Regions from separate parts of the Homo sapiens genome. Here all the other regions are linked to region 1. Evidence: fine-mapped expression QTL. A gene starts in region 1. Each other region holds a variant in brackets. All regions are shown on one strand. Distances are from middle to middle. Region 1 holds the start of DNAAF5 (dynein axonemal assembly factor 5). Region 2 overlaps DNAAF5 (dynein axonemal assembly factor 5). Region 3 overlaps PRKAR1B (protein kinase cAMP-dependent type I regulatory subunit beta). Region 4 overlaps DNAAF5 (dynein axonemal assembly factor 5).

The links. PIP is the estimated chance that this variant, and not a neighbour inherited with it, causes the effect.
Region 2: its variant is the best candidate, but not a certain one, in a credible set for the expression of DNAAF5 in whole blood (TOPMed, PIP 0.55).
Region 3: its variant is the best candidate, but not a certain one, in a credible set for the expression of DNAAF5 in gastroesophageal junction (GTEx, PIP 0.81).
Region 4: its variant is the best candidate, but not a certain one, in a credible set for the expression of DNAAF5 in uterus (GTEx, PIP 0.65).

Annotation. Positions count from the first base shown.
Region 1 is chr7:722,602-730,411 of GRCh38, reverse strand. DNAAF5 (dynein axonemal assembly factor 5) reads right to left here and starts at 3,713. Exons shown (of 13, transcript NM_017802.4): 1 at 3,097-3,713; 2 at 565-749. The coding sequence starts at 3,691. It overlaps PRKAR1B (protein kinase cAMP-dependent type I regulatory subunit beta), which reads left to right and starts at 3,131. Exons shown (of 11, transcript NM_001164760.2): 1 at 3,131-3,202. RefSeq lists silencers at 2,851-2,930, 2,971-3,080, 3,141-3,190, 3,441-3,640.
Region 2 is chr7:746,400-754,209 of GRCh38, reverse strand. The region is part of intron 4 of DNAAF5 (dynein axonemal assembly factor 5); the gene reads right to left. Among named protein-coding and RNA genes, the nearest start is that of PRKAR1B, 23 kb to the right of the region's middle. RefSeq lists an enhancer at 1,186-2,385. The variant G/A (reference allele first, on the strand shown) is at 3,947.
Region 3 is chr7:695,400-703,209 of GRCh38, reverse strand. All of the region lies in intron 2 of PRKAR1B (protein kinase cAMP-dependent type I regulatory subunit beta), which reads left to right. Among named protein-coding and RNA genes, the nearest start is that of DNAAF5, 27 kb to the left of the region's middle. RefSeq lists enhancers at 5,796-6,296, 6,297-6,797. The variant C/T (reference allele first, on the strand shown) is at 3,797.
Region 4 is chr7:757,965-765,774 of GRCh38, reverse strand. DNAAF5 (dynein axonemal assembly factor 5) reads right to left here. Exons shown (of 13, transcript NM_017802.4): 7 at 3,879-4,022; 8 at 1,801-1,969. Among named protein-coding and RNA genes, the nearest start is that of PRKAR1B, 35 kb to the right of the region's middle. The variant G/A (reference allele first, on the strand shown) is at 4,201.

The DNA of each region.
Region 1 (7,810 bases):
TTCCCCGGTGGCCACAGTGTGTAGCATTTTAGCAAGTCACTGGGGCCTCAGATCCAAGACATGCCCTCCAGGCCAGATTCTGCCAGCAGTAAAGCCAACACTCAGCCCCATCTGTAGGACTCCTGCCTGCCTGCCTGCCCGTCTCTTGGTGGGTTCCAAAGCCCAACGACATAATTATCCCCAACAAACCAACCCCGACTCCACTCTTCTCCCAGTCCAGGTCCACCAACCATGGTGGCTTTTCGGGAAAGTGCGTCTTGATGGATGGGAGCACTAAGGAACCTTCTGCAACTGCTGAAGTGCACACTGTGCCTAAGAGACAATAACTACACAAGTCATCCTTTCTAACATCCTTGGAATTCATAACATCAAACATTAAAACAGTTCAGCTCTCTTCTAGTTTTTCCAAGATGTGAACAGGAACGTCCTGTGACTAGGAATAATGAAAGGACATTTGGTGCATACAGCACTCTGAAAAAAGAACAAGTGAGTTAGTTAAAAACAGCACGTCAGCCCGCCTGTGTTGGAGAGAGGAACAGACTGTCCAGGAGAAACACCAGTTACCTGCGGGACGTCATCAAACAGTCGCTGAGCAAAATGGGAAAGCACGTCGTCCACGGACTTCCCGTTGCCAAAATGGATCACTGCGCCTGTGGCTTCAATGGCGGCCACACGGACCTTCCAGTGCTGGTGGGAGATGGTCTGCATCAGGGGCCCGATCAGAGACTCCGACTGCATGTGGAAGTGGTCTGAGGGACAGGGAGGCCCCCAGTTACCAGAGCTGCTCCCACACGCCTCGCCCAGCTCTGTGGGCTTCCAGAGGACGGCTGCCTGCCTATGAGTTCCTCACCTCCCTTCCTCTCCTACGCCAGGTCCTTGCTGCATGAACAGTACACAATCCAGGCTGCCAAGGAGAGCTCTGTACCGCCCGGCACAGGAAGAGGCTCAGGGACAAGCGTCCCACCCTGATGACACCTGTGCAACCCAGAGGCTTAGGAGGACCAGCGGGGAAAGGCTGGGGGTGCAAACCCATTGTGGCTGAAGACCAGAGAGCCTGGACCTGCTGAAGCCAAGGTGGAGGCCTGACGGGGACACTGGCCAGAGGAAAGAAGCCGAGCCCAGAAGACAGAGGCGAGGCCACACTCCCAGCCCCACCTGAGACGAGACCCCAGGCTCCTCCAGGAAGCTGGGCCAGCACCACTCCAGGCAAAGCCACTGCACTTCCTATTTGTAAAGTCCCCGCAGAAAGTCAGAACAAGAGGTGGCAGGCGCCTGTAATCCCAGCTACTTGGGAGGCTGAGGCAGGAGAATCGCTTGAACTCAGGAGGCGGAGGTTGCAGTGAGCTGAGATCGCCCCACTGCACTCCAGCCTGGGAGACAGAGTGAAACCCTGTCTCAAAAAAAAAAAAAAAAAAAGTCAGAACCAAAGGGTCTCTGGCATCCAGGCCGCCTCTTGCCTCAGCTCTGCACTACTTGGGGCCCGTCTGGGAAACGGCTATTCCAGTGAGACTTTGGGTGAGCGCCTCAACCTCTCTGCCGTTGCCCAGTGTGACCGAGACCAGAGGTGAGGCCCCCCACCCAGGGGAGAGGAAGGCCAGAGGTGCTGGAGATGAGGGGATGCTCCAGGCAGAGGCACAGTCCCTCACCCCACAGCAACCAGTGAGCACATACCCCAGCAGGCTGCGCTTGGGGCTGGGGCACAGATGGGCACAGTGCTGTCCTGTGGAACCTACGGTCCAGGGAGGGAGCTCGTGGGGCTGATGTACAGACTGGGTAGGGAAGTGGTTGAGGATGAAGAAGAAATACATTAAATGCCAGGAATTCTCAATGGCCATGTCCATCCAGCCCAAGGTTCTTCCCCAAGCTCCACAGGAGTTCTGGACCATGTGAAATCCAAAGTTAACCAACGTGGAAATCTCGGCATTTCCCCAAGTCCAGCTCTTCCTCTACTTCTGGAATCTATTCTCCACGCAGCTGCAGTGATCTTTTAACAACCTGAACTCGGGTCTATCACTTCTATTGACACCCCCTGCACTTCCCACTACATTCAGACCATCACTGGGACATCACTGGGACGGCCTGAGCTGGCCAGATCCCTCACTGCTTTCCTGCTCCCTACCGCCCACGGATTTATAGCATCAGTGTTCCCTCCTTCGGAAAGCCTTCCCGCCAGCAGGAAGCAGGCGCCTGCTATCATTCCACATCCCAGCCAGGGGAGGGAAAGGGCAAGACCCTGCAGGAATGGCCAGCTAAGGAAAGGGAACGACCGGATCAGATCAGAGCTCTAAAAAAGATGGGGAACGTTATAAAGTGGAGGGGAGAAGCGGCCTCCTTCCACTTAGGACAGTGGTCCAAGCCAGAGCGGAAAGGCAGGGGAGTAGGATGAATGGGACAGAAAGTGAAATGACCAGAGCAGAGTCTCAAAGCGCGTGCCCTCAACCAGGTGCAAGTCCTGCAAGCCCCCGAGGGAAGGAAAGGGGGCAGCTATCAGGGCACACCCCACCCCAAACCGCCTAACAGGAATTTCTGCGGTGGTTTCCAGGTATCTGGACAGAAGCGCTGGCTCGTGGGCCCGGGTGGGGTGGAGGGGGCTCAGGCAGGGAGGAGGGTGGGAGGTGAGGGTCGCGGGAGGGCGGCGTGCAAGGAGGAGGATGGCACAGGATAGGCAGGTGGAGGGGGCACAGGGAGCAGGCAGGTGGGGGGCGGGGCTTGGGGCGTGGAGGGTGGAGGCGGGGAGCAAGGGGACAGGGGAGTGAGGTGAGTGAGGGCCAAGCAGGAACAGGGGTCACGGGGCAAGGAGCACGTGGCAGCGCAGGAAACAGGTACATGGGGGTAGAGGACAAGGGAGCAGCTGAAGGGCGCGTTGGTGGCGGGACGTGAGGCAGGGGAAGCAGTGGTGGTGGGAGGAGGGGGCCGGGCGGGGTGCTTTGGGGCAGGCGGGTGGGGGAAGCGGCGCATGGGGGGTCCGGGATGTTGGGGGGTGCGGGCGTGGAGGGGGGCGGGGCCGAGCCGCGGGGGTTGTGAGAGGGGCCGCGGAGGTGGAGGTGGGGGTGAGAGTGTGGGGTGGCGTGTGGGAGCGGGGCCCGGGGTGCTCACCGGGCGTGGCCTGCGCCAGGGCGGCGGCGCAGCTGCAGCTCTCGCGGCGCACGGCGGCGAAGGGGTCGAGCAGGGAGCAGCGCAGCGCGCGCAGAGCGTCGTCCAGGTGGGGCGCGAGCGCGGCGCCGCACAGGTCCACGGCCAGGCCCAGCAGCTGCACAAGCGCCAGGCGCAGCTCCTCACAGGCCTCGGGCGGGCGGCGCGCGGGCACGGGGCCGGCCAAGCGCGCGGCGAGCGCGGGCAGCAGGCGCGGCAGGGCATCGCGGGGCCGCGCGGCGCGGCGCAGGCCCAGATCCAGCAGGTGCACTGCCAGCGCGCGGCAGCCCTCGGCGGGGTCGCTCAGGCAGCGCAGCAAGCGCGGCAGCAGTAGGCGCGCCCAGGGGCCCTGGAAAGCGGTGGGGTCGGCGGCAGGGCCTGGCTCCTCCAGCGCGCGCCGCAGGGCCTCCAAGGCGCGCCGCCGGCCCGGCTTGCTGTCGGCCTCCAGCCCCGGCAGCAGGCGGCTCAGGGCGCGGCTCAGCTCCACCGCCTCAGCCGTCTCGGCCCCCTCAGCCGGGTGTGGGGCCGCCACGGCCTCCGCCACCCCCAGCGCCGCCATCTTGCCCGCGTCGCCGGTCACTAAGGGGAACAGCGCTTTCGCGACTCTCAGCGCAGATTACGGCAGCACTTCCGGTCCGCGCTGCGGGCGGGGCGCCGGGCTACTTCCTCCCCGCCGGTGCGCACGTGGGCCTGTGCTCTTGTCGTGCTCGCCCGCTGTCCCCCTCTGTCGCCGGAACCCCCGCCAGCCTGCCTGCTGGGCCTTGTCCTGTCCCCATTGTACAGATGGGGAAGGTCTCGGGAGGGTGCAGCTCGCCCGGGATGCGGGTCCCGGGCTATAGGCCTGGGCCTGCCCCTAGGGAAGCCTGCCCTGCAGCCTAGGGGGCTTGGAGAAGGAACCTGAGTGGTCCCGCCTGGGACCAGGGTAGCCGGGAAGCCCCTGTTTGAGCCGCCTAGAGCCCCTCTGGCTTTGGGAAGGTCCGTTCCAGGAGGGAAGGACGCTGGTTCTGTGGACTGGATCCCCCTGTGGTGTAAGACAGGTGCCTGGTCTGGGCTTCACGTGCAGCCTGTCATTAGATCTCAGGCGTAGCCGCCCAATAGGTTCGCCTTACTCGCTGCCCAGGTAGAGCCAATTTATCAAGACAGGGGAATTGCAATAGAGAGTTTAATGCATGCAGAAACTGGCTGCATGCAGAAACTGGCTGCATGCAGAAACTGGCTAAAGGACACTGGAGCTTTATTGCTCAAACCAGGTTCTGAAAATCCTGAGATGGGTCATCTAAGGATAATTAGGCAGGTAGGGGGCCAGGGAGAGGGCAGTGCTTATTGGTCGGGTTGGAGATGAAACCATGGAGAGTCAAAGTTGATTCTCTTGCTGTCTTCTGTTCCTGGGTGGGATCACAGAACTGGTTGAGCCAGATTAGTGGTGTGGGTGGTGGCACCTGGTGCATCAGAATGCAGAGCCTGAAAAATATCTTGAGCACCAATCTTAGAGTTGATGATAGTGGTGTTATCCTAAGGAGCAACTGGGGAGGTTTGGAATCTTGTGGCCTCTAGCTGCATGACTCAAACCACAATTTCTAATCTTGTGGCTCATGTGTTAGTCTTACAAAAGCATTCTGGTCCCCAGGCAAGAAGGAGGTTGGCTTCAGGAAAGGGCTGTTATCATCTTTGTTTCAAAGTTAAACTATAAACTAAGTTCCTCCTAAAGTTAGCTTGGCCTACTCCCAAGAAATAACAAGGCAGCTTGGAAATTAAAAGCAAGACAGTGTTTCACAGTAGTGACCTTGACTGTGGACTTGAGTGGAGACAGAGGCGCCTAAACAGCTTGGAGTCGGAGTTGCTGTGAGCCCAGCCTAGAACGCGAGTTTGACAGCACTCACTGCAAACCAGGAGTCCCCAAGTCTGGTTAGCCAGGCACTTCTCATCTGTGACCATGCACTGAGTTTTCTAAAGGCAGAATGTGTGTAATTTTAGGACAGAACTTCAAGTTTGACCTTCTTTTTTGTTGTTGATCTTCGTGTTGCAAAATGGTGGTGTTTGTCGGTACGTCTTTTTTTTTTTTTTTTGAGATGGAATCTTGCTCTGTCGCCCAGCCTGGAGTGCAGTGGCGCGATCTCCGCTCACTGCAGACTCTGCCTCCCAGGTTCATGCCATTCTCCTGCCTCAGCCTCCCAAGTAGCTGGGACTGCAGGTGCCCACGACCACGCCCAGCTAATTTTTTGTATTTTTAGTAGAGACGGGGTTTCACTGTGTTAGCCAGGATGGTCTCGATGTCCTGACCTCGTGATCCGCCCGCCTCAGCCTCCCAGAGTGCTGGGATTACAGGCGTGAGCCACCACGCCCGGCCCATCAGTACTTCTGAAAAGTTGTTATGTAGCATATTCAGTAACCTTCATTCATTGTTTCCTCCAACAGGCATTTGTTTGACCAGGCACTGTCTGCAACATGTGGGACAGGATGACAATGATGTAGAAACTGGCCATGGTCCCTGCTCTCCCAGATCTTAGGGTCTTGCAGGATGAGATAGCCCTTAATGGAAGGATAAATTAGTATGTGTTTAACCGTGGTGGTCCTGAGAGAATGAGTGTCAAGGGATGTTGAACTAGACTTTTAAGGCTTCCCTGAACAAATGGTAGCAGAGGTGAAATATGAAGAATAAGTAAACACAGTGTATTAGTCCATTTTCACGCTGCTAATAAAGACATGGCCGAGACTGGGTAACTTATACAGGGAAAGGTTTACTGGACTCACAGTTCCACATGGCTGGGGAGGCCTCACAATGATGGCCGAAGGCGGGAAGGAGCAAGTCACATCTTACATGATGGCAGCAGGCAAAGAGAAAATGAGAGAGCCTGTGCAGGGAAACTCCCCCTTATAAAACCGTCAGATCTCGTGAGACTTATTCACCATCATAGGAACAGCACAGGAAAGACCTGCCCCCATTATTCAGTTACCTCCCACTGGGTCCTTCCCACAACACGTGGGAATTGTGGGAGCTACAATTCAAGATGAGATTTGGGTGGGGACACAGCCAAACCATGTCACATAGCCAGGTGAAAGGGCGGAGGTGGGAGACGGGGAGTGTTGGAGAGAGAGGAAATAGCATGAGCAAAGGCCTCATGGGAGTGTTACGGGCTGAATGGCGTCTCCCCAAAATTCATATGCTGAAGTCCTAACCCCCATAGTTCAGGAAGTGATCCTGTTTGGAGACAAGGTCTTTGCAGACGTGATTGAGGTGAGATGAGGTCATGAGGTTGGGCACTCATCCAATATGACTGCTGTCCTCATAAAAGGAGAAATTTTGGAGATAGACGTGCATACAGGGAGAATGCAGTATGAGCATGAAGAGAGACCTCAAGAGGAGCCAGCCCGTACCCTGATCTTGAGAAATCAAATTTGTTTCATTCAGCTGCCCAGCCTGGTGTGCTTTGTTACGGCAGCCTCAGGTAGCAAACAGGGAGGGAGGCTGACCCTGGTCACAGGGGAGCAGGCAGGGAGTGAGCAGATGGGTGGGGCCAGGCCATGGGGGCCTCTGTCCTAAAACATGGCAGACTGAGGATTTCAAGGTGGGAGCATTGGCAAGATCGAGTCTGCATTTTTCAAGGACCCCTTTGGCTTCCGTTGAACGGATTGGTCGGGAGCCCTGGGAAGGCTGTGGCAGTGAGTGCTGAAGACGAGAAAGAATAAGCGCTTGAATTACGGTGGTGGGACTTCACTTTTCCTTGCTCCTCCCATTGAAATACAACAAAATACCCTGCACATAGCAGGCGACGAGGAAAGGAGCTTGAGAGTTGACAGACGGGCTGGAGACCTCTGGACTGGAGGAATAGCAAGGTGGTGGGTCCCCTGGGTTTTCTTTTTCTCTCATGTGTTCCTGCACTAGTCCCCAGGGAAGCCTGTGGCCCAGAACAGCCAACAGGCACAGACAGAAATTCTCCAAGGAAAGCCTCCTCTCTCTGGCCAAAGCCCTGGGAAAGGGGACGCCCAACAGAGACCTAGAGGGTAGCTGCCACCTTCACCCCACAGTCTGCTTTCAGGGCCGATTTTAAAGCTGCTGCAGGTGCATTAACCTGTGCTGTGCAACTGGGGTTCGAGTGGACAGTCTGCACTGCACAGGTAGTGTCAGAGGAGCCTGAAATCTGCCCTTCCTCTCTTAGCACAAAGAGACCCAGAACGAGCATGTTCTGTCCTGACACAGCAAAAGGTAGCCCAGTGACACCAGGCGGCCCAGGGAGGTACCTTTCACCCCTGCAGGCAGCACCCATGGGAAATGAGCAGCAGTCCCAGGAGAGCCAGAAGAATAAAGCAGACGAGGAGGGCAGTGCCAGGGCTCTGAAGACGAAACTGCTGTTGGAATGACAGACCACAAAAACAGGCTGCAATCTACACCCTGGACCTGAACAGAGCAACTGCCTGGTGGAATAGAGTAGGACAAGGAGTCTGCAAACATCGTAACCCAAATGTCCAGGATACATCTGGAGATCACTTGTCATACCAAGAACAAGGAAAGCCACAACCTGAACATGGTAAGGTAACGGATGTAAATTCCAAGATAGGTCACATGTTGGAATCATCTGCCAAGAATTTTAAAGCAGAGTCATAAGAACCAGCTGGGCGCGGTGGCTCACGCCTGTCATCCCAGCACTTTGTGAGGCCAAGGCGGGCAGATCACCTGAGG
Region 2 (7,810 bases), 24 kb before region 1:
CTGGGTGACAGAGCGAGACCCTGTCTCAAAAAACAAACATTTAGAGCCACACAGAGATGCAAACAACACACTTGCCACACGTGCTGACGTGTATGATCAGAGAGACACGCCTGCGAAGCCGTCCCCCTATGATCAGAGAGACACACGCCTGCGAAGCCATCGCCATATGATGAGAGACACGCCTGCGAAGCCGTCCCCCTATGATCAGAGAGACACACGCCTGCGAAGCCATCGCCATATGATGAGAGAGACACGCCTGCGAAGCCGTCCCCATATGATCAGAGAGACACACGCCTGCGAAGCCATCGCCATATGATGAGAGAGAGACGCCTGCGAAGCCGTCGCCATATGATCAGAGAGACACGCCTGCGAAGCCATCCCCATATGATGAGAGAGACACGCCTGCGAAGCCATCGCCATATGATGAGAGAGACACGCCTGCGAAGCCGTCGCCATATGATCAGAGAGACACGCCTGCGAAGCCGTCCCCATATGAGAGAGACACGCCTGCGAAGCCGTCCCCATATGATCAGAGAGACAAGCCTGCGAAGCCATCGCCATATGATGACAGAGATACGCCTGTGAAGCCGTCCCCATATGATGAGAGACACGTCTGTGAAGCCGTCCCCATATGATCAGAGAGACATGCCTTCGAAGCCATCGCCATATGAGAGACACGGCTGCGAAGCCATCGGCATGGTGGGGGTGACAGCTGCGTCCTTCGCCCGGCTTCCTCTGCTCCTCTGCACTGCAGCCCCCAAGGCACCCCGGCACCCCTGGATCTGTCCCGTGACTGAGCTGCACTTTCTAGAGCCTGACACAAGTGGAAGCCTCTCGTTCACTCTCCTCCCTTCTCCGCTTCTTTCACTCTGCATCGTTTTCTGAGGCCCGCCTGTGCCCGCTCCTTTCTGAACCTGGGAAGTGGCCTGTTCTGGGGAGATGCCAGTTTAGTGCCCGCTCCTCTGTGGAGAAGCATTCAAATGGTGTCCAGGGCAAGTCTGTGTGGCCTGGGCTTTCACTGTGCCGGGACAAATACCAGCTGTGGAAGGGCTGGGCCACAGGGAAGGTGCACGTTTAACTGTTTTAGAAACTGTCCAACCATTTTCCAAAGTGTTTGAGCCAGTCCGCGCTCCTTCCCACTCTCAGCGGCACGCGGTACGCTCAGTCTTGAATTGAAAGCAGTCCGAGAGGCACAGTGGCATTTCCGTGTGCTTTTCCTTTGCATTCCCCGATGACTAACGACGCCGAGCGTCTTCTTCACAGGCTTGTTTGCCGCCTATCTTCCCTGGTAAAGGGTCTTTCCAAATTGTTTTCTGCCCATTTAAAAAAATGGATTGTTTTCCTGCTGAGTTTCAAGAGCTCTTCCTATACTCTGGAGATAAATCCTTACATACATCATCTCCAAACATCTCAGTCTTTGGTTTGTCTTTTCGTTTTTTCAACAGGCCTTTGAAAAAGCAGAAGTGTTCATTTTGATGAAGTCCACACATTGCTTTACCCTGTTACAGAGCGGTCTTTTGAGGACGCACCCAGGGAAGCGTGGCCCGGCCCACGGTCACGAAGCCTTCGTCCTAGCTCTGCGGTCTTTTGAGGATGCACCCAGGGAAGCGTGGCCTGGCCCGCGGTCACGAAGGCTTCGTCGTCACTCTGCAGTCTTTTGAGGATGCACCCAGGGAAGCGTGGCCCGGCCCGCGGTGACAAAGGCTTCGTCATCACTCTGTGGTCTTTTGAGGACGTATCCCGCGAAGTGTGGCCCGGCCCGTGGTCACGAAGGCTTCGTCGTCACTCTGCAGTCTTTTGAGGATGCACCCAGGGAAGCGTGGCCCGGCCCGCGGTGACAAAGGCTTCGTCATCACTCTGCGGTCTTTTGAGGACGTATCCCACGAAGTGTGGCCCGGCCCACTGTCACAAAGGCTTCGCCCTAGCTCTGCGGTTCTGGGCTTTACCTTCAGATCCCTGACGCATCTGGGGTTAATTTTTTGACTCCAAGTTCACTTTCTGGTGTATGAGTGATCCTATCATTTACAGTATCCTTATTAAAAGATGCCATTAAATGGTCTTTGAGCCTTCATCAAGTCAGTGGTCCGCGTGCGGGCGCCTGTTTCTGGACGCTCTCGTTCTGCTCATCGGTCTGAAAGCCAACACCACGTGGCCCCATGACTGTGGTTTTGTGAGTCTTGCACCCAGGACCTGCTGCCATTCAGCTTCACTCCTCCCCAGTGTTTCGGCAGCTGTGGGTCCTTTGCACGCCCACGAGAATTTCACAATCAGTTTGTCGATTTCTACAGAAAAGCCTTCAGGGACTTTGATGAAAAGATTCTGATCTTCAAAATTCAGGCCGGGCACGGTGGCTCATGCCTGTAATCCCAGCACTTTGCGAGGCCAAGGCAGGCGGGTCACCTGAGGTCAGGAGTTCAAGACCACCCTGACTAACATGGTGAAACCCCGTCTCTACTAAAAATAGAAAAAATAAGCCGGTCGTGCTGGCGAGCGCCTGTAATCCCAGCTACTCAGAGGCTGAGGCAGCAGAATCACTTGAACCCAGGAGGTGGGGGTTGCAGTGAGCCAAGATTACACCACTGCACTCCAGCCTGGGCGACAGAGTGAGACTCCATCTCAAAAAAAAAAAAAAAAAAAAATTCAGAACAACTGTAAAGATAGAAATGAAACCATGATATGTCAGGATTTAAAGGGTCTTTTTCTATTTTTAGAGAAAGGGTCTCACTCTGTCACCCAGGCTGGAGTGCAGTGGTACGATCACAGCTCACTGCAGCACTGACCTTCTGGGCTTAAGTAACCCTCCTGCCTCGGCCTCTCAAAGTGCTAAGATTACAGGTGTGAGCCACTGCATCCAGGCTAAAGGGTATGTTTTAATAAGAACAGCTTGTACCAGGACACCCCATTTTTAACCTTTTTCTGGTTATTTTTCTGTTTTTATCCTGTATTATGGAATTAGTTCCAAATAATTAAAATTCTGCTGGCTGTTTAAATGATCCTGTCATCATTTTGTAAAAAACAAAAAAGCCAGGGTGCAAACACACCTCTCTTCGTTTTTTTTTGAAATGCAGTCTCGCTCTGTCATCCAGGCTGGAGTGCAATGGTGCGATCTCAGCTCACTGCAACCTTCACCTCCTGAGTTCAGGCAATTCTCCATTCTCATGTCTCAGCCTCCTGAGTAGCTGGTACTACAGGTGCATGCCACCACACCTGGCTAAGTTTTGTATTTTTAGTAGAGATGGGGTTTCACCATGTTGGCCAGCCTGGTCTTGAACTCTTGACCTCAGTATTACAGGCATGCGCCACCACGCCCAGCTGCACCTTTCTTCCTGATGACGATCCGCTCTGGAAAGTTTGCAAAATGAGAGATGCGTGACCAGGAACAGCCGGGGAGGGGTCTGCTGACAGCTGAACAGAGCTTTGTGGGCACCTGGGCTTCTGGGTGTTTCCAAAGAAATACTGGCCGGTGCTGGGCAGGGGTACGCAAGGCCTGGACACAGGCTGGGACTGGTTTAAGGCCTGTTAGGAACTGGGCCCCACAGCAGGAGGTGAGCAGATGGTGAAGGAGTGTGACCGCCTGAGCTCCACCTCCTGTCAGATCAGTGGCGGCATGAGATTCTCAGGGGAGGGCAAACCCTCCTGTGAACTGTGCGTGTGAGGGACCTGGGTTACGTGCTCCTTATGAGAATTGAATGCCTCATGATCTGAGGTAGAACAATTTCAACCTGAAACCACCCTGCTCCCTGCCCCACCCATGGAAAAATTGTCTTCCACAAAACCAGTCCCTGGTGCCAAAATGGCAGGGGACCGCTGGTACAGTCAAGCGTTGCTGAACGGTGGGGGGTGCGTTCTGGGAAACACGTCATTGGGTGATTTCGTTGCCGTGTGAACGTACTACAGTGACGTACACAAGCCTAGATGGCGCAGCCTCCTACGTGCCTGGCTGTGC[G/A]ATGCCTGGGCTGTGCGATATAGCCTGTGAGGCTCCTAGGCCACGAACCTGTGCAGCAGGTGACTGCACTCAACACGCAGAAACTGTAGCACAGACAGTGAGTGAGTGTTTCCAAACACAGAAAAAGGAGAAACACAATGTTACTATCAGAGGGGACCACCCTCCTCCACGTGGTCCTTATGGACTCAAACGCTGTTACTCAGCACATGCTTCTGAACATGGTTCTGAAGCCTGTTTTTCTATACTTAATATTATAGCAGACATAGGCTGGGCACCGTGGCTCACACCTGTAATCCTAGCACTTTGGGAGGCCAAGGCGGGTGGATCACCTGAGGCCAGGAGTTGGAGACCAGCCTGACTGATATGGTGAAACCCTGTCTCTACTAAAAACACAAAAATTATCCAGGTGCGGTGGTGCGCGTCTGTAATCACAGCTACTCGGGAGGCTGAGGCAGGACAGTAGTTGCCTGAATCTGGGAGGCGGAGGTTGCAGTGAGCTGGGATCGCACCACTGCACTCCAGCCTGGGTGACAGAGCAAGTCTGCCTCAAAAAAAGAAAAAGAAGTTCCTTCTTCTGTAACACCCCCGGCTAACTCAGAGTGGGCCAATGCTCGTGGGACCTTGCTGGCTTCAAACAATGTTAACCAGCTTTTCCAGCCCATTTGCACAACGTAACGTTTCTGACAATTTCCATTCAAGCTTCCATCTTTCCAAACACATGGATGAAACACACAAGCAAAGCAGAATGGGTGCGAGCTCCAAGGCAGAACAGGAGAATGAAGGGGGAAGGCTGTCACGTGGCAGCGTTCATCCACAGGGAACCCTGCTCACTTCTAAGTCAGGCTTTAAGAAGAGCCAACTCTGTCCTCCTGTGTGAAAAGCTCTGGCCGGCCACTCACCAGCATCGAGACGCTTTCCTTTACGCTCAGGCATTGCCAAGGAAAACAATCTTAACAGAGGGATAATCTCAAAGCAGAAAGGACTCTGGAGCCGCTGTCACCAAGCCATCTGCTGCTGGCGGCTGGCAGTGTGATTGTCAGATACACACCAGGCGTGAACGTGTGCTTCCGTGTGAGAAGGGCACTCTGTTCAGGGAAATGACCGACTTGAGGACGGTAAGTGGTGCCCTCCCAACCCTCCCAGCACGAAGCTTGGTTTTTAAGGCGGAGGTTTCAGTGCTGTTAATGGAAACTTACGCTGTGTCTGCAAAGCTAACAACAAATTATATGGTACGAATTATATTTCCACATGGTGTGTACCTTATTTTCTTAGGAAACAGGAAAACTGGACTCTGATGAAACTTCAGATCCAGGCCCATGTGAATTCCTTATTGATAGGTCATTACCTCTGAGCACCGTCTGCATTAGCAGTGGTCTGAAAATATTACCGAACTTTGCCTGTTCACGCACTCGGCAACCCAACCACACGGTTGGACTGTCCGTTCTTGCTGGTAAGACAGGACACGCAGCCACTCATCAGCTCGCTGGGTGCTCACAGAGCCACTAAGCCTGGCTCACCGCCTCTGGGTGCAGAGGATGGCAGCAGACAGACTGGCCCCTGGAGCGAGCGGTGAGGTGAGCACAGGGCCCGAGTCCACCGAGGAGAAGGAGCACCTCCACTGTGGTAGGGGGCAGGAGGAAACAGAGCAGGGGGGATGGGGGCGGCAGCTGCCGGAGCTCTGAGGAGAGGAGCGGGAGCTGGAGCTGAGGCCTGGCTGTGGAGCCTAAAACAGTCTGATGAGGGACCTGCATCCAGAGCACGGAAGGGGTCCTCAAACTCCGCACTCAGAAACACAGAACTCGATTTAATGGATGGCAGTTCTGAATGGCCACCAAAGACGACGTACGGGTGCACAGAAGCACACCACAGCACAGGAAAAGGCCCCAATGTCCTCTCATTAGGGAATCGCAAAGTAAAACACCATGGGCCACCACTGCACACTAGCCGGACACGCTGAAACCAGCAAACCCCACCAACACCGTGGGCCACCACTGCACACCAGCCGGACACGCTCAAACCAGCAAACCCCACCAACACCGTGGGCCACCACTGCACACCAACTGGACACACTGAAACCAGCAAACCCCACCAACCCTGTGTGACAACACTGCACACCAGCCGGACACGCTGAAACCAGCAAACCCCACCAACACCGTGGGCCACCACTGCACACCAGCCGGACACGCTCAAACCAGCAAACCCCACCAACACCGTGGGCCACCACTGCACACCAACTGGACACACTGAAACCAGCAAACCCCACCAACCCTGTGTGACAACACTGCACACCAGCCGGACACGCTGAAACCAGCAAACCCCACCAACACCGTGGGCCACCACTGCACACCAGCCGGACACGCTCAAACCAGCAAACCCCACCAACACCGTGGGCCACCACTGCACACCAACTGGACACACTGAAACCAGCAAACCCCACCAACCCTGTGTGACAACACTGCACACCAGCCGGACACGCTGAAACCAGCAAACCCCACCAACACCGTGGGCCACCACTGCACACCAGCCGGACATGCTGAAACCAGCAAACCCCACCAACACCGTGGGCCACCACTGCACACCAGCCGGACACACTGAAACCAGCAAACCCCACCAACACTGTGGGCCACCACTGCACACCAACTGGACACACTAAAAACAGCAAACCCCACCAACCCTGTGTGACAACACTGCACACCAGCTGGATACACTAAAAACAGCAAACCCCACCAACCCTGTGTGACAACACTGCACACCAGCCAGACACGGTAAAAACAGCAAACCCCACCAACACCGTGGGCCACCACTGCACACCAGCCGGACACGCTGAAAATAGCAAACCCCACCAACACCCTGTGCCACCATTGCACACCAGCTGGACACACTAAAAACAGCAAACCCCAATACCGTGTGTCAACACTGGACACCAACACCGTGTGCCAACACTGCACACCAACCGACACACTAAAAACAGCAAACTCCACCCCACACGCTGGCCTGACTGCAGCACCTGGAAATCTCATCCAGTGCCCGTGGGGATGCGACATGGCGCGAAGGGTGTGGAAAACAGTGTGTGGTGAGTTTCTAACAAAGTAAGGACTGTACCTATGGCCCAGCAACCCCACGCCTGAGTGTTTATCCAATAAAACACTCTCACAAAAACCAGTCTGCAAGTGTTTACATCAGCTTTACCTGTGATGGCCAAAAACTAGAAAGGACCCGAATATGCCCCTGCTGGTGACCAGATGGTCCATCCACGGGAGGGAACGTGACTCACGCGAAGAAGGAAAGTGCTGCAGACACAGGTGCCATGCATGAGCCTCCGACACAGAGAGGAAAGAGCAGACGCCAGCGGCCACGCTCCCACAACCTCATGCAAGTGACATCCTGGAAGGGACACACAGGACGCAGCCCACAGCAGCAGTGCCAGGGCCCATGAGCAGTTCTGGGCGGTGGAGATGCCCACATGCAGGGGACAGAGGCGGTGCTGCTCAAAACTCACAGAGCTGCAGCCCTGAAGGGTGAATGCAGCGTGGTCCCGGGGGAAGGGCTATCACAGACCCTGGGCAGGGTGGGCAGGGGGTGGCAGGATGGTAAGGACGTCACAGACCCTGGGCAAGGTGGGTGGGGGGTGGCAGGACCGTAAGGAGGGCGTCACAGTCCCTAGGCACGACGGGCGGGGAAAAGGGACGACACAGAGCCTGGGCACGGCGGGCGGGGGAAAGGGATGACACAGACGCTGGACAGGGCAGGACGGTAAGGAGGGCGTCACAAACCCTGGGCATGTTGGGTGGGGGGCAGCAGGACGGTAAGGAGGGCGTCACAGGCCCTGGGCATGTTGGGTGGGGGGCAGCAGGACGGTAAGGA
Region 3 (7,810 bases), 27 kb after region 1:
TTGCTATGTTTTCATGTGAATAAACCCTCTTATCATTATTCGATGTTTCTCTTTGTTCCTGGTAATTTTCATTGTTCTGAAGTCTGCTTTATCTGATATTAATACAGCCACATTATTAGGATTTGTGTGATTAATCTTTTTCTATCCTCTTATTTTAGCTATATCAGTAAAGTGTGTGTCTTATAGATAGCATATACTTGGTTTTCTTTTTTTATATGATTTGACAGTTTCTGTCTTTTAATTGGTGTGTTTAGATTATCCACTTTTTAAAAAGAAAATACTGTTTATTACTATATATGTAGTACATATAGTATATATAGTATAGTATATATTATGATGCATCTTTATTTATTTATTTATGTATTTATTTATTTACTTATTTTTTTGAGACGGAGTCTTGCCCCGTTTGCCCAGGCTGGAGTGCAGTGGCACAATCTCCGCTCACTGCGAGCTCCGCCTCCTGGGTTCACACCATTCTCCTGCCTCAGCCTCCCGAGTAGCTGGGACTACAGGCACCTGCCACCACACCCGGCAAATTTTTTGTATTTTTAGTAGAGACAGGGTTTCACCGTGTTAGCCAGGATGGTCTCGATCTCCTGACCTCGTGATCCGCCTGCCTCGGCCTCCCAAAGTGCTGAGATTACAGGTGTGAGCCCCACGCCCAGCCTATGATGCATCTTAATATGATTTTCTTTGAGTTTGTCTGGTTTCCCTTTGCAAATCTTGATGTTAATTTATGTCCTTCAAGAAATTTGGCAAGTTTTCAACCATTATTTTTTAAGATGGTTACTTTTATATATCTTACCTCATGTATAGATCATGTACATTTAATGTAATTATTGATATGGTTGGATTTAGGTCTACCATTTAATTATTTTTCTATTTGTTTTCTCTGTTTTTTTTCCTATGTTTCTTTTTTCCTTCCTTCTTTTAGATTATTTGATTATTTTTTAGTACTTACTGTCTTTTTTACTGTTTTTCTTTAAGTGATTGCTATAGGCATTATAATATACATACATAACTTTACACAGACTTTTTAGAGTTGATATTTTACCATTTCAAGTAAAACATACAAGTTTTCCATCACATAGGCCCATTTACCTTCCCCTTATTATTTCTGGTTGTTGTACGTATCATCTTTACACATGTTGAACTTTCCCCCACTCCCTTGACAATGTTATAATTTTTACTTTTAACACTTTCACGTATTTTCAGTAATTTAAGAGGGGCAAATAGTCTAGAAGATGTACCTGGGTATTTCCCATTTCTGTCACTCTTCCGTGGTTCCTGAAGTGTTTTTCTTTCCCTCTGTGATCATTTCCCCCACCAGCCTGAAGAACTCGCTTTAGCATTCCTCTTAGAGCAGGATTGCTGGTGACAGATTCTCAGTTTCCTTCATCTGAGAATCTCTCTGGTTTGCCTTCATTCCTGAAGGACAAGGACATGTTTACAGATACAGGATTCTGAGTGGAGAGTGATTTTATTTCAGCAGTTTAAAGATGTCTTCCCATTGTTCTTTATGGTTTCTGATGACAAATCAGCCTTTTGAACCCTCATTTGCTTTATGTTTCTTTTCTCTGGCTTCTTTCATGATTTTCCCTGTGTATTTAGTTTGTCAGAGTTTGAGTACAATGTGTCTGAGTTTGATTTTCTTTGAGTTTCTCTTGTTTTCCTTTGATCTTGAATCTGAATATTTATACCTTTCAACATATTTGAGAAGTTTTCAACCATCATGTCTTCAAATATATTTTTCTGTACCAATCTCTTTTTCCTGTCTTTCAGGGACTCCAGTGACATGAATGTTAGATTTTAAAATATTTTCCCGCAAGTCCCTGAGGCTCTGTTAAATCTCTTTCTTTCTTTCTTTTTCTTTTCTTTTCTTCTCTTTCTTTTCTTTCTTTCTTTCTTTTTCTTTCTTTCTTTCTCTTTCTTTCTTTCTTTTTTCCTTCTTTCTTTCTTTCCTTCCTTCCTTCCCTCCCTCCTTCCCTCCTTCTCTCCTTCCTTCCTTCTTTTCTTTTCTTTTTTTCAGAGTCTCGCTCTCTTGCCCAGGCTGGAGTGCAGTGGTGCGATCTCGGCTTACTGTAACCTCTGCCTCCTGGGTTCAGGAGATTCTCCTGCCTCAGCCTCCCGAGTAGCTGGGATTGCAGATGCGCACCACCATGCCCAGCTAATTTTTGTATTTTACTTAGAGATGGGGTTCAGCCATGTTGGCCAGGCTGCTCTCGAACTCCTGACCTGAGGTGATCCATCCACCTCGGCCTCCCAAAGTGCTGGGATTACAGGCGTGAGCCACGATGCCCTGCCCACCTGTCCTTTTGGTGGGATGATTTCTGTTGATCTCTCTTCAAACTCACAAGGTCTTTCCTCTGTCATATCCATTCTGCAAATGATCCCATCTAGTGAATTTAAGATTTTCTGTTACTTTATTTTTCAGTTCTAAAATTTGTATTTATTTTTCAGTTCTAAATTTATTTGGTAGTTCCTCCTCTTCCTACTCCTCCTCCTGTTCTCCTTCTCCTCCTTTCTTCTTCCTTTTTTTTTTAAATAAATTTGATTTCTTTGCTGATTCCCCCACCAATTCCAAGAGTATTCACCTTCACTTCATGGAAAATAGTTAAAATTGCTGCTTTAGAGTGTTAACCTGATAATCCCGTCATCTCTAGCATCTGAAGCTTGTCAGCCATGGGTTGTCTTTTCCTTTGAGAACTGGCCAGACTTTCCTAGTTCTTGATATGTTGAATAATTTGTCAAGGAACTGGATTATATCCTGGACATTTTCTATATTATGTTGTCAAGCTTTGAATCCCATTAAAATCCTATGGAGAGAGAATGTTGATATTTTTGTTTGTTTTGGCAGGAAATCAATTGACGAGGTCCATGCTGCAAGTTCTCTCTCATCCTTGGTGGGTGACGATGCCAACATGAGTTCCGTTTCCAAGCCTTTGGGGTGCTGCTTGGGCGCACCCTTGTGTGGGTCGCTTGGGGGCTGGTCTGGGACTTGGACATTGTTTTGCTTGCAGCTCAGTCCTCAGCACCTTTTCTGTGGTTCTCTGTGTTCTGTGCATACGAAACTTGGGGTTGAACCTCACACTCGTATCAGTTCATGGAATTCGGGGACCCCCATTTTGTCCTTTCTCCTCTGGGGTTTCTCTCACATTCTCCATGCAAGAGAGATCCTACCTCTGGCACACAGATATGCCTGTTTCTCTCCCTGCCGCCCCTTCCCCCGCCCACGCCGCTGTCCCCTCGGCTGAATGACTGCAGCAGCCTCTCTGCTTCCCATCGGGCCTCGAGCTCCATTTTCCATATCAGTCACAGCTGGAGCCATCTTCCAGAAACACAAATTGAACTGCTCCCCCTTCTTAAAACCTTCCCAAACCTTTCCAGTGCTCTCCTAACAAATCTAAGCTCCTTCCTGCCTCACGGGGTCTGGCTCCTGCTTGCCTCTCCACTGCAGCCCATGGCCACCCACGGGCTCCGGCCAGCACTGTCCTGTCACCTGGAACTTCCTCCCCACCCCTCCTGCAGCTGGCCGCTCTTCAGCACTTGCTTTAGGGCCACGGCTGCTTCCTCAGAGAGCCTCTCACCACGACCCTGTCTTGGGTGAGCTCAGAGGAGGAGATCTCGGCTTGAGCTTCAACCCCAAGTCCCAGCTCTGCAGGGAGGGAGGGTCTTTAGTGTCCTCTGGCCCTCCTAGCTCACTACTTGGTGAGCATGACAGTGTGTGATGGACTGAGGGGGTAACTGCCCACTCCTTCCTCCAGCTGTGACCTCTGCCCTTCCTACCCCGGCTGTT[C/T]CTGCGTTGGGAGGGGCCCTAACCGTCAGTGCCTTCCTGCTTTGGGACTCAGTGCCTCCCAGTGCAGGAACACCGAGATATGGCACGTGGTGCTTTGCATACTTTATCTCATCGAATTCTCACGCAGGCCTGGCCAGATGAGATATTTACATTCCCATCTTACAAATGAGAAAACGGGTGCTTGGAGAGAGAACGTGGGTTCCCCACCATCAGCCAGGGAGAGTCATGGAGCTGGGCGCAAACCCAGGCATGCCTCTGAGGCCACACCCTTCCCACCTTGCCTGTGGGCTCTGGCCCCTGGCGTGCTGGGGCAGGGTGCAGGGTTCTCCTGGGGTTGGCTTTGATGGTGGAACCCCCCCTTCTGCTTCTTTCTCATCCTCCGTCCTAGGAACTCAGGCTTCTCCGCCTTTGCCCTGCAAGGCTGGTGCCCCTGTGTGTGGCAGGCTGGAGCTGGGGTGCTGCCCTCCAGGAGGGAGAGGCTGAATCACCAGCTGCTGCTGCTGCGTGGGGAGAGGTGGGGTGGGGAGACAGCCGCCATGGTGGGTGAGGGAGTGAGTGCAAGTGTGTGTGAGTGACATGTACACACACTCGCCCAGATGCACACACATGCACACACAGGCAAGGATGTACTGTTGCCACCGAGGAGGAGGGTACGTGGAGTCGTGTGTGCACATGCATTAAAACACACGCACTTACCCAGATGCATAGCTGTGCGCACACCTGGACATACTCAGTTTACTCCGAGAGTGGTGGATGTAAGGGGTGTGTTTGCATGCATGTGTACACGCTCACACATGTACTTAACTAGATGTGCATATGGTCACATGCATGTACCTCTCTGGATGTGCACACACATGTACTTAGTTGGATATGTACATGTTCACACATATGTGCACATGCTCACGCACGTACTTACCTAGACACACACTAACACATACGTACCTAGATATGCACACACGCACACGTACTTACCTAGACACACATGCACACGTACTTTCCTAGATGTGCACACATAGAGTCATGCCATCTGCTTCTGAGGGTGAGCAGGGCTCTCGCCTGTGCTCACACCCTCCTGTGTACACTCTGCCCCTAGCCTCACTGGGACTTGCATCTTCATCTTCTATTTTTATTTTTATTTTATTAATTTAATTTTTAATTTTCTTAATATTTTTATAGAGATGAGGTCTCCCTATGTGACCCAGGCTGGTCTTGAACTCCTGGCATCAGGTGATCCACCTGCCTTGGCCTCCCGAAGTGCTGGGATTACAGGCATGAGCCATGGTGCCCTGCCCAGCCTGTTAATTTCTAATTCCCTTCCCTCCCCTCCCCTCTGCTCCCTTCCCTCCCCTCCCCTCCCTTCCCTTCCCTTCCCTCCCCTCCCCTCCCCTCCGCTCCCTTCCCTCCCCTCCCCTCCCCTCCACTCCCCTCCGCTCCCTTCCCTTCCCTTCCTTCCCTTCCCTTCCCTCCCGTCCCTTCCCTTCCCTCCCCTCCCCTCCCCTCCCTTCCCTTCCCTTCTCTTCCCTTCTCTTTTCTCCTTTCCTTCGCCTTCCCTTGTTTGCTATACTCTCTATGTGAGGCCTGGTACACAATAGGTGCTCAGTAAATGATTGAAGACCTGCGTTTCTCTTCCAACCTTGCCACTGAATGGTTGGGTTCCCCTGAACAAATCCTTTACCCTCTCTGGGCCTCAGTTTCCCCGCCTCATGGCTGGGGATGATTTGCCGCTGCTAGGTGGGCTTATGGGTCCTGGCCTGGGGTTGGTACCATGTGAGCCCTCTCCTGGAGACCCCTGGTCCTCAAATACAACTGGCGCTTGAGATTTAGGGTTTCACAGAGTGCAGAGGGGCTGTCTTAGGGCCGCTCATGGAACTGCTCGGAGGAGGTGGTCCAGAAACACCACTCATGCCTGCCCGGCACGCAGTGGATGACCCCGTGGAAGCCTAGACGCCCTCCGTTGAAGGCATCAGGCGGGGTGGATCAGCCGCCTCTCAGAAAACCCTTTCAGTGGGACGGGGCAGGCTGTGTCCCCACAGGAGCGAGAACCGGGCCGCAGGCAGGACTGAGGAATTCCATCTGCCTGTAATCCCTGCGTGTAGGCTTCTCTCGGGAGGATAAACTTGGGTCTAGGAAATCTCTTTAGATTCCACCCCCACCCCAGGCCCCGCCCAGATATTTTCTTTTCTGGGCTGGACGTCTGCACTTCATCCCCCTCTGTGGGACGGGATAGGAGCAGGACAATCCCCAGGGCCGGGTTCCTCGATTCTGGGGCACATTCTGGCCACGGAGCTTTCTGGAAACCCTGTTCCCACAGTGTTGTTACGAAGATGGCTTTGGCCTGGAAAGCCTGTCCCGGCCCCACGACCTCGACCGTCCTGCAGCTCAGACAATGCATCAGTATGAAAACAGGAGACAGGAAGTGGGGGCTGCAAAATGAGAGGCTTTCCCGGAATCCCAAGAGGGGAAGGGGAAGAGCAGCCTGGCATGTGCACAGGCAGAGCCCGTGAGAGGTCACCCCCATGCAGCCCTGGGGAGGGGCCCTGCTCGCTGTCCCCCTTTCTCCCAAGGCCTCCTGAAGCGGCCTGTGTGTATGGAACCACCTGTATCCTGCCTAGTCTGATTCTTCACCTGCCAAAGATGGGAAGTCCCGTCGAGCCTGGACAGGCAAAGCTCTTTCAGCCAAGAGACTGGGACCCCAACCTCGTTCCTTGAAGAGAAGCGGCTTCTGGTTCCTGCAAAGGGAGAGCCCAGGGTCCTTGCCGGAGCCGTGAGGCCCTGGGCCAGTCTCTCCTCTATGAAGTAAACTACTTTTAGCATGGATCTCAAAAGCTAAGTCCCATTGAGGCCGGGCGCGGTGGCTCACACCTGTCATCCCAGCACTTTGGGAGATGGAGGCAGGTGGGTCACCTGAGGTCAGGAGTTTGAGAGGTCAGCCTTGCCAACATGGTGAAACCCTGTCTGTACTAAAAATACAAAAATTAGCCAGGTGTGGTGGCTGATGTCTGTAATCCCAGCTACTCGGGAGGCTGAGGCAGGAGAATTGCTTGAAGCCTTGAGGCGGAGGCTGCAGTGAGCCAAGATCGCGACACTGCACTCCAGCCTGGGCAACAAGAGTGAAACTCCATCTTTCTTTAAAAAAAAAAAGTTCCATTGGGGCCGGGTGCTGTGGCTCATGCCTGTCATCCCAGCACTTTGGGAGGTCAAGACAGGAGGATCGCTTGAGACTAGCCTGGGCAACATAGCAAGACACCATTTCTACAAATAATAATAAAAAAATTTAGCCAGGCATACTGGTGGTGGTGCACCTGTGGTCCCAGATACTCAGGAGGCTGAGATGGAGGGATTGCTTGAGCCTGGGTGGTCGAGGCTGCAGTGAGCTATGGTCACGCCACTATACTCCAGCCTGGGTGACAGAGAAAGACCCTATCTCAAAAAAAAAAAAAAAAAAAAAAGGGTTGGGCGCAGTGGCTCACGCCTATAATCCCAGCACTTTGGGAGGCCAAGAGGGGTGAATAACGAGGTCAGGAGATCGAGACCATCATGGCTAACACGCTGAAACCCCATCTCTACTAAAAATACAAAAAAATTAGCCGGGCATGGTGGCAGGCACCTGTAGTCCCAGCTACTCGGGAAGCTGAGGCAGGAGAATGGCATGAACCCGGGAGGCGGAGCTTGCAGTGAGCTGAGATCACGCCACTACACTCCAGCCTGGGCGACAGAGCGAGACTCCGTCTCAAAAAAAAAACAAAAAACAAAAAAAACAAGCCCTATTGACCCCACCGGTGGCTGGCTGAGGCACTTTATTTGGTCACAATTCCTGTAGCTTGCAGACTCCAGTGGGCTCTGTCTTGTGACCTCGCCCATCTCACTTGAAACTGTTTCTGCCTCCACTGCAGTCTCCATCATGGAACACGAGGTCATCGTAATTCAGATGGCGCTTCACAAGTCTAGGCTTGGGAAGGCAGCACCACTGACCCCTTCCTGACCGGCACGGGGCTCTCTCTTAGATTCCACCCC
Region 4 (7,810 bases), 35 kb before region 1:
GAGCTGTGATCGTACCACTGCACTCCAGCCTGGGTGACAGCGTGAGACCGTCTCAAAAAACAAAAAACAAAAAAACCCATACAGTTTTATACCCAGCTCTTGACACTGAACGGCATACTGCAGTCTTCCTGCCTTTCAGTGAATGACAGGAGATGTGGGCCCAAAGAGATGTGTGTTCCAAGCTGCCAATCAGTTCCGCCAACACCATAAGAAATGCTTCTGCAAAGAGGAAGAACAGATGGTGGAGAAGCCACCAGAGCTGCAGTAAATGCAAGTCCTGGCTTCACTGCAAGCCACGTCTCTCGGGGTTTGTGTGCCCAATTTTCTGGACTGTGAGGTGAAGGCTGGAGTAATTTGGTGCAAGAGGTTGTTAGGAGTAACATTCAGTAAAAATCTGAAATGCAACACCCTGGGCCCCCATCCAAGAGGCCCGTGGGAGAGGGGCTGAGGGAGGCTCTGGAGTCGCTGCCTCGGGAGTTCTCTGTGCTCTGCCTCCTTGTCTGTGAAACGGGGTCACAGTTCCCACCACACAGGCCGGCTGTGAGGGTAGATGAGCTGACGGCCCTAAGGCTTGCAGAGCAGCGTCTGGCATAAAGTGTTTAATGCCCCGAGTGCACGTCAGCAATCGCCAGCTTTGTTTTTTGTTTGGTTTTAGAGACAGGGCCTTGCTCTGTTGCCCAGGCTGGAGTGCAGCAGTGCAGTCACAGCTCACTGAAGCTTCGAACTCCTGGGCTCCAGGGATCCTCCCGCTTCAGCTTCCTGAGTAGCTGGGGCCACAGGCGCACACCACCACGCCTGGCTAACTGTATTTTATTTATTTTTAAATTTTAGATTCAGAGGTGCACGTGCGGTTTTTTTCATCTTTTTGTAGAGATGAGCTCTTGCCGTGTTGGCCAGGCTGGTCTCGAACTCCTGAGCTCAAGTGATCCTCCCACTTCAGCCTCCCAAAGTGCTGGGATTACAGGCGTGAGCCACCACGCCCAGCCAGTATTTTCTTTTCTAATTTGGAAACAGTTTTGAATGCAACTGACAAAGAACAATTTTGGGTATTTTTCCAAGTCTCAGGAAAAAAAAGGTGAGTCCCTACCAGGCACAGAGATTGTGTAAGAACGATCTTAGCATCCTCAGATGCAGAGCACGACCACCCTGGTGCACACATCCAACAGGAGGCGGGGGCACTCGGAGCTGCAGGCGGGAGCGGGAGGGCCGGGGAGGCAAACGAGGAAGAGCTACCGCGGCGAGTTCACGGCCCGTGGAGCAGCGCGGGCCGTGTGTCCCAAGGCACTATGGCTGCTGAGCGGACGTCTCCTTAGGGTTCTGCAGTGGATCTTGCCCCGCGCTGAAGCCCCACTGGGCCACACTGTCCATCCCAGGAAAAGTGGCTGATCCGCAGGCTCAAAGAGAACCACAGAAATGCTGGTCTCAGAGGGGCTGGGGCTAAGGCCCCCATGTCACACACACAGCACCCATGCGGCTAGACATCTAGATTCTGCAACAAAATCCAGACGTATTTAAGAAGCCAGGCTACAAAACAGGCCACGGAAAAGCACACTTTGAAGGTTTCACATGAAAGCGTGTGCCCGGGCCAAGTGGAAGAGCTGCGTCCCACAGTCTTCAATGCGATGCTCCTTAAAATGCTGCTTCTCCCCAGGCAAGAGTGACTATTGGGTACTTTTAACAACACGCTTCAGTGAACCACAGCTCAGCTGGTCGGCGCTGGTACCTGCTGAGCACCTGGGGGAGCAGGTGTGTAGCCTGAGTGGGGCCAGGCACGGCACGCCAGCTGTCGGGACGGCTCACCTGACTGTGCGACGATGACACTGAACTGCAGGAGCTCCGGCGAGTGTGCGGTCCAGTCAAGGTGCGACGCGGTCACCCGCTCCAGGAGGGGACCAATGTGCTTGCGGTAGAGGTCCTGGCAGCTGCTGACACCCTCCACCATGGCCAGTGAGTCCATCGTCTCCTGTGCCTGGAGGTTACAAGTCAGAGACTGAGACAATTCCAACACTCAGGGCTCAAGCCTGCCTGCCTGCTGGGACTCACTATCCCCCTCACGCGTAAGAACCACACAGGCCGGGCCTGCCAGGATAATCGGGAGGGAGGCTGCCACAGGGAGCCCCGCCCAGGGTGCAGGAGAGCGAGAGCCGCGGGTGCAGGGCGAGACCCTGATCCCGTTCACACCAACGCCGTCTCTGCAGCGAATCATGAAGCAGGCACTGTGCACACTGGGATGCACACAGCACAGGTGGTCCTGGGGCTTACACGGACGTGGTGTCCGCCTGGGCAGGCAGGGCTCCTCTGAGGTGGTGAGGAGCAGAGAGGGGCGGGCAAGTGGCTTAAAGAGTTAAGCCCAGCAGACCAGACCTCCAGGTAAAAGTAACTGGGCAGACAGAGATGATAACCTTGGCCACCTTTTACTTTTAGCTGGCTGCTCTCCTTGGGGGCTTAGGAACAGAGGAAGGGCTGAGGCTCCCCGGTGGCCATTGCCCCAAGCCTGGAGTCTGAATCTGGGGCTACCTGGCTTCGTCCCCCATGACCAGCAGGCAAAGACTTTGCTTTTGCTGGTACCTCAGGCCCTAACAGTGACAGCATCTGCTGAGACACACGCCCCTTGGGAAGCTTGTTTTTAGAGGCCCCAAGAAGGAAGGGGAGGGCAGCAGCCTCCTCCACACCAGGTTCCCCATAGTACATTCAGGCCGTAAATCTCCCAGAGAGAGAATCTGCCGAGAGGGGCTGTCCACAGAGACAGAATGGGAGGAGGAACTAAGTCTCAGCTTCCAGAGAGGCAGACAGATACTGGGGCCTCCAGGGGCCCTAGAAGCCCATTAGAAGGTTGGGGTTAAAAGATTTTTGGGCATAATGGCCAGGTGCGGTGGCTCATGCCTATGATCCCAGCCCTTTGGGAGGCTGAGGCAGGTGGATCACCTGCAGTCAGGAGCTTGAGACCAACCTGGCCAACGTGGCAAAACCTTGTCTCTACTAAAAATATAAAAATTAGCCGGGTATGGTGGTGGGCGCCTGTAATCCCGGCTACTCAGGAGGCTGAGGCAGGAGAATCACTTGAACCTGGGAGGCAGAAGTTGCAGTGAGCCGAGATCGCGCCACTGCACTCCAGCCTGGGTGACAGAGCGAGACTCCACTGAAGAAAAAAGATGATTTTTGGGCATAAACAGGGAGCCCATGGGCGAGAAGTACTTCTGAACGCTGTGCTGCAATGAGAGCGGGAAATCACGGTATCTTCTCTCGACTCAGTCACACATGCACATGCACTTTTTTTTTTTTTTGGACGGAGTCTCGCTCTGTTGCTCAGCCCAGGCTGGAGTGCAGTGGCACGATCTTGGCTCACTGCAACCTCTGCTTCCCTGGTTCAAGCAATTTTCCTGCCTCAGCCTCCTGAGTAGCTGGGACTACAGGCACATGCCAACACGCCTGGCTAATTTTTTGTATTTTTAGTAGAGACGGGGTTTCACCATGTTGGTCAGGCTGGTCTCAAACTCCTGACCTCAGGTGATCCGCCCACCTCGGCCTCCCAAAGTGCTGGGATTACAGGCGTGAGATGCCACGCCCAGCGACATGTGCACTATTAAACCCTACTCAAGTGCGCAGGTTTAAAGGTTACGTCTTATTTCTTGTTTGCTTCTTTGCTGAAGACCCTAACATTAAACAGCTGTCTCCACTCCCTGATGCCAGAATACACTGGCAGCTGGAGAGCTGCCCCGAAGGCCGTTGCCCGGGGACTCACCCGCAAGGTTCTCAATCCCTGGTCTTTGCTGGTCAAGCACAGAGGGGATGCATAGGAGACAGTTCACCTCACTTAGAGATGCCTTCCAGCTGTGAGCTCCGCTAGGTCAAGCAGCAGCCACCACTGTCAGCCTTACCTTGTCCCTCAGGCCGGTAGCACCTGCGAGGGCCACTATTGTCAGCAGCACGTCCAAGAGCTGCAGGCTGGCCACGCCACAGTCCTCATGACACACAGACACCAGAGCCTGCACACACAGCAGCAGGCGCTCCAGGTAGAGGTCCTGGAAGAGACCGGCAGCACCGTCAGAGCTTGGTACAATTTGGTCGTGTCCCCACCCGAATCCCATCTTGAACTGTAGCTCCCATAATCCCCACGTATCCTGGGAGGGACCCTGTGGGAGGGAACTGAATCATGGGGGTGGGTCTTTCCCGTGCTGTTCTCTTGATATTAAGTCTCAC[G/A]AGATCTGATGTTAGTATAAAGGGCAGTTCCCCTGCACACTCTCTCGCCTGCCGCCACGTAAGACGTGACTTTGCTCCTCCTTTGCCTTCCACCATGATGGTGAGGCCTGCACAGCCATGTGGAACTTTGAGTCCATTAAGCCTCTTTTTCTTTATAAATTACCCAGTCTGTGGTAGATCTTTATTAGCGACATGAGAATGGACTAATACAGGGCTCCCGCTCCGGCCCCAGTGTCAGGGCCGACAGAGCCCGCCCGGGGCTCCTAGTCTACGGCTCACGAGGGGCAGCAGCCATGGGAGAGCCCTTGCAGGGAGAGCCCCCAGGCGCTGGAGGTAGGGTGCCGGCATGTCAACCATAAAAGGGCGTGCTTGTTGATGGGAAAACTGAACACAGACTGGGAGCTAAGGAATCTGTGCTTATTTTGTGAAATGTGAACAGGCACTTGAGCTATGTGGTGGAGAAGCTGCGTTAGTGATGCACACGGCACCTGTGAGGGAAATGACGGCGCACTGCATTATCTGCTTTACAACATGCCCAAGTTCTCCCCGCCCTCCAAAGTTAAAAAGAAAAGTGGCCCCAGGCAGGCAGAACACGCATGCCAAGGGCTGGTCAGCGCTGAAGCTGGCAGTCGCTCTGCTGCCTGCCCCTCTTCTGTGCATTTTTGAGCTTTTCTATAACACCAAGTTTTAAGACAAATAAAATTCTATGGCTTAACATGTTTACTGATTGACGGGGAGGTGGAGTCTCAGCTCTGCACCTACGGCTGCGCTGGATGAATGGCTTCCCCTCCCGGCTCCAGCCTCATCCACTGTGAATCAGCCAGGCTCTGAAGCCCGCAACACAGCAGGCGTGTGCTGGACCCAAGAATTCCTAAGGCTTTGCGTGTGCTTACTTCTTTCTAAATAAATTTTAACTTATTTTTTAGAGACAGGGTCTTGCTCTGTCGCCCAGGCTGGAGTGCAGTGGTGCAATCGTGGCTAACTGCAGTCTCAAACTCCTAGCCTTAAGTGATCCTCCTGCCGTGGCCTCTCAAAGTGCTGGGATCATAGATAAGAACCACCACGCCTGGCCTGTATTTACTTCTTATAACGTCCCTCTAATGTCTATTTTATGTATGTTTCATAAAGTACAGAGTGAGTCAGGACCGTGGCCATGTAATTTAAACACGTGATTTATCAACAGTGTACATATATTGGAGGCCTATGCTTAAAAACTGTTTTTACTAATGGGGGTGCAAGTTCAAAGAAGTTTGGTAATTATTTGGCTAGACAATGGGTTGGTTCTAAATTTCCTAATCAGCTCTAAAACTCTAAGCCTCATTCCCCACTGACGTAAATCATGGAAGACTAAACAAAACACTCCCACTGTACTACAGCAGCGTTCTGTCCTTGCACCCCGGCCCCGCCCTGACCCACAGAAGACACAGAGCTGCATGGCTCCATCTCCCTCGGAGCTGGAGGAGCCGCGCGGCCCCGTCTCCCTCAGAGCTGGAGGAGCCGCGCGGCCCCGTCTCCCTCGGAGCTGGAGGAGCCGTGTGGCCCTGTCGTGGCCCCAACTCCCACAGAAGCCACAGATTTGTTTTTATTCCATTCCTGATTTTTCCCACAGCCCAATTTCTCTAAGGCCTGTACTAACTGGCTGACTTCTGAGGACAATATCTGGCTAGTTTCTAGAATGACCTGTCATGTACATTTCAGGAGCGATCATCTTTTCGGTTAAAATCAAAAGGCAGGTGCGTTTAGAAGACACAGCCCCTCCTGGCTGACCACACCTCCAAGCACAGGAACAAACAGGGAATCAGGCATCCTTTGCAGCAAGCACCACCCTCCTGCCACGAACGCAGCACCGTCTCTGAGGAAGTGACAAGACTTCACATTTATAGATTTCTCTATATTTGACCAGACAATTTTCAGTGTCTGCCTACATACAACGCACACACACAGAACGAAAAAGAAAAAAGATACAGCAGGAAATAATTCTCAGTATTTTTTGAAATACTATTTCAAACATTGTTTTCTGAAACAATGTTATCTAAGACTGCAAAGGTTTTTAATTCAGAAAAGCACAAGAGACTCCTATTTCAACAATGGCAATGGCATCCCACAACTGCTGGCTTCCCTGTGTGAGAAGCAAATCGGTGAGTTACCCATTTCCTCACTCTAGACACCTGTCCTAAACTCCTTCCCAGGAGACTCCAGTTCCCGTCTGTCGAGCTCTAGGGGACCTACTGGGCCCGAGACACCTGGAAGTACCTACTGCTAAAGCCAGATTTCCTGTGAACCCCAGGGCAGGGAGTGAAGCCAGGCTCAGTTTAGAATACATTTACACGGACTTCTCTGTTTAAACACGAGCTTTTAAAACAATTTCGGTTTGTTCTTGAAAGACATTTTCAACCTGTTCTCATAGCTACTGGAGAATAGCTGTGGGAAACATAATCGACTTCCCAAATGACATGACACAAAGCCCGGCCGGCCGCGGGAAGAGCACAGGGGCGTGGGAAGAGCACAGAACCACGGGCCTGATTCTGACTGAGACCTGAGTACCTTCACCCTTTCTTGCCAAAAATTTAAGTCTGTTAAGGAGTAAAATGGGGCCAGGTGCGGTGGCTCACACCTGTAATCCCAGCACTTTGGGAGGCCGAGGTGGGCTGATCACTTGAAGTCAGGAGTTCAAGACCAGCCTGGCCAACATGGAGAAACCCCGTCTCTACTAAAAACACAAAAATTAGCCGGGTGTGGTGGTGCATGCCTGTAATCCCAGCTACTTGGGAGGCTGAGGCAGGAGAATCGCTTGAACCTGGGAGGCGGAGGCTGCAGTGAGCCAAGATTGCGCCACTGCATTCTAGCCTGGGTGACAGAGCAAGACTCTGTCCCAAAAAGTAAATAAATAAAAATAAATAAAAAAAAATTACCCAGGTGTGGTGGTGCACACCTGTAGTCCCAGTGACTCAGGAGGCTGAGGTGGGAGGATCAACCTAAAACAAAAAAATAAAAACAAGAAAGGAGTGAAATGTACGTCTTGGGTTTTCACTGTGACTGGCTCCTTGGCCAAAGGGCCGACACACGTTCGCAGCCTGGAAGGTTGAGGCTGGCTTCCCAGGGGTCCCGTGTGACTGGACTTTGTCAGAAAGACGTCTCTGTTTGAAAGATTGTGATTAAATTTTTCCTCGATAAAACTGGAAGATGGGGAGCCAAATGCACAACTGTGGGATGACACAATTCCGTTTTCCTGTAACCAACATGGAGATGTGAAAACTACACTTTCTTTGCTATAAAGTTTGTGAGATAAGGATTTAGGCACCTGTGCACATTTTCAAGTTATGCCCTTCTAGGAAAAAATGCTTCTGGCTTGCAAATCTGTATACAGAAATCAAAGGCATCCTCATAACCCCTCGTGGGTGAAGGAAAGTGGAGAACTGACACACATTCGATGATGTGTTAAAAACGGGTTTTGGGAAAAGCTGAAGCATGGCTGAAATGCCATGAGCACGCGGCCCGGGCCCCTCCCCCGCTCCCTTCCTTACCCCAGCTCCGTTTCCTTCCCTCTATGTATTCCAGGAACTGCTTACAGGTTTCTTAAAACAGTTTACAAAAATGACTGTCAACAGCC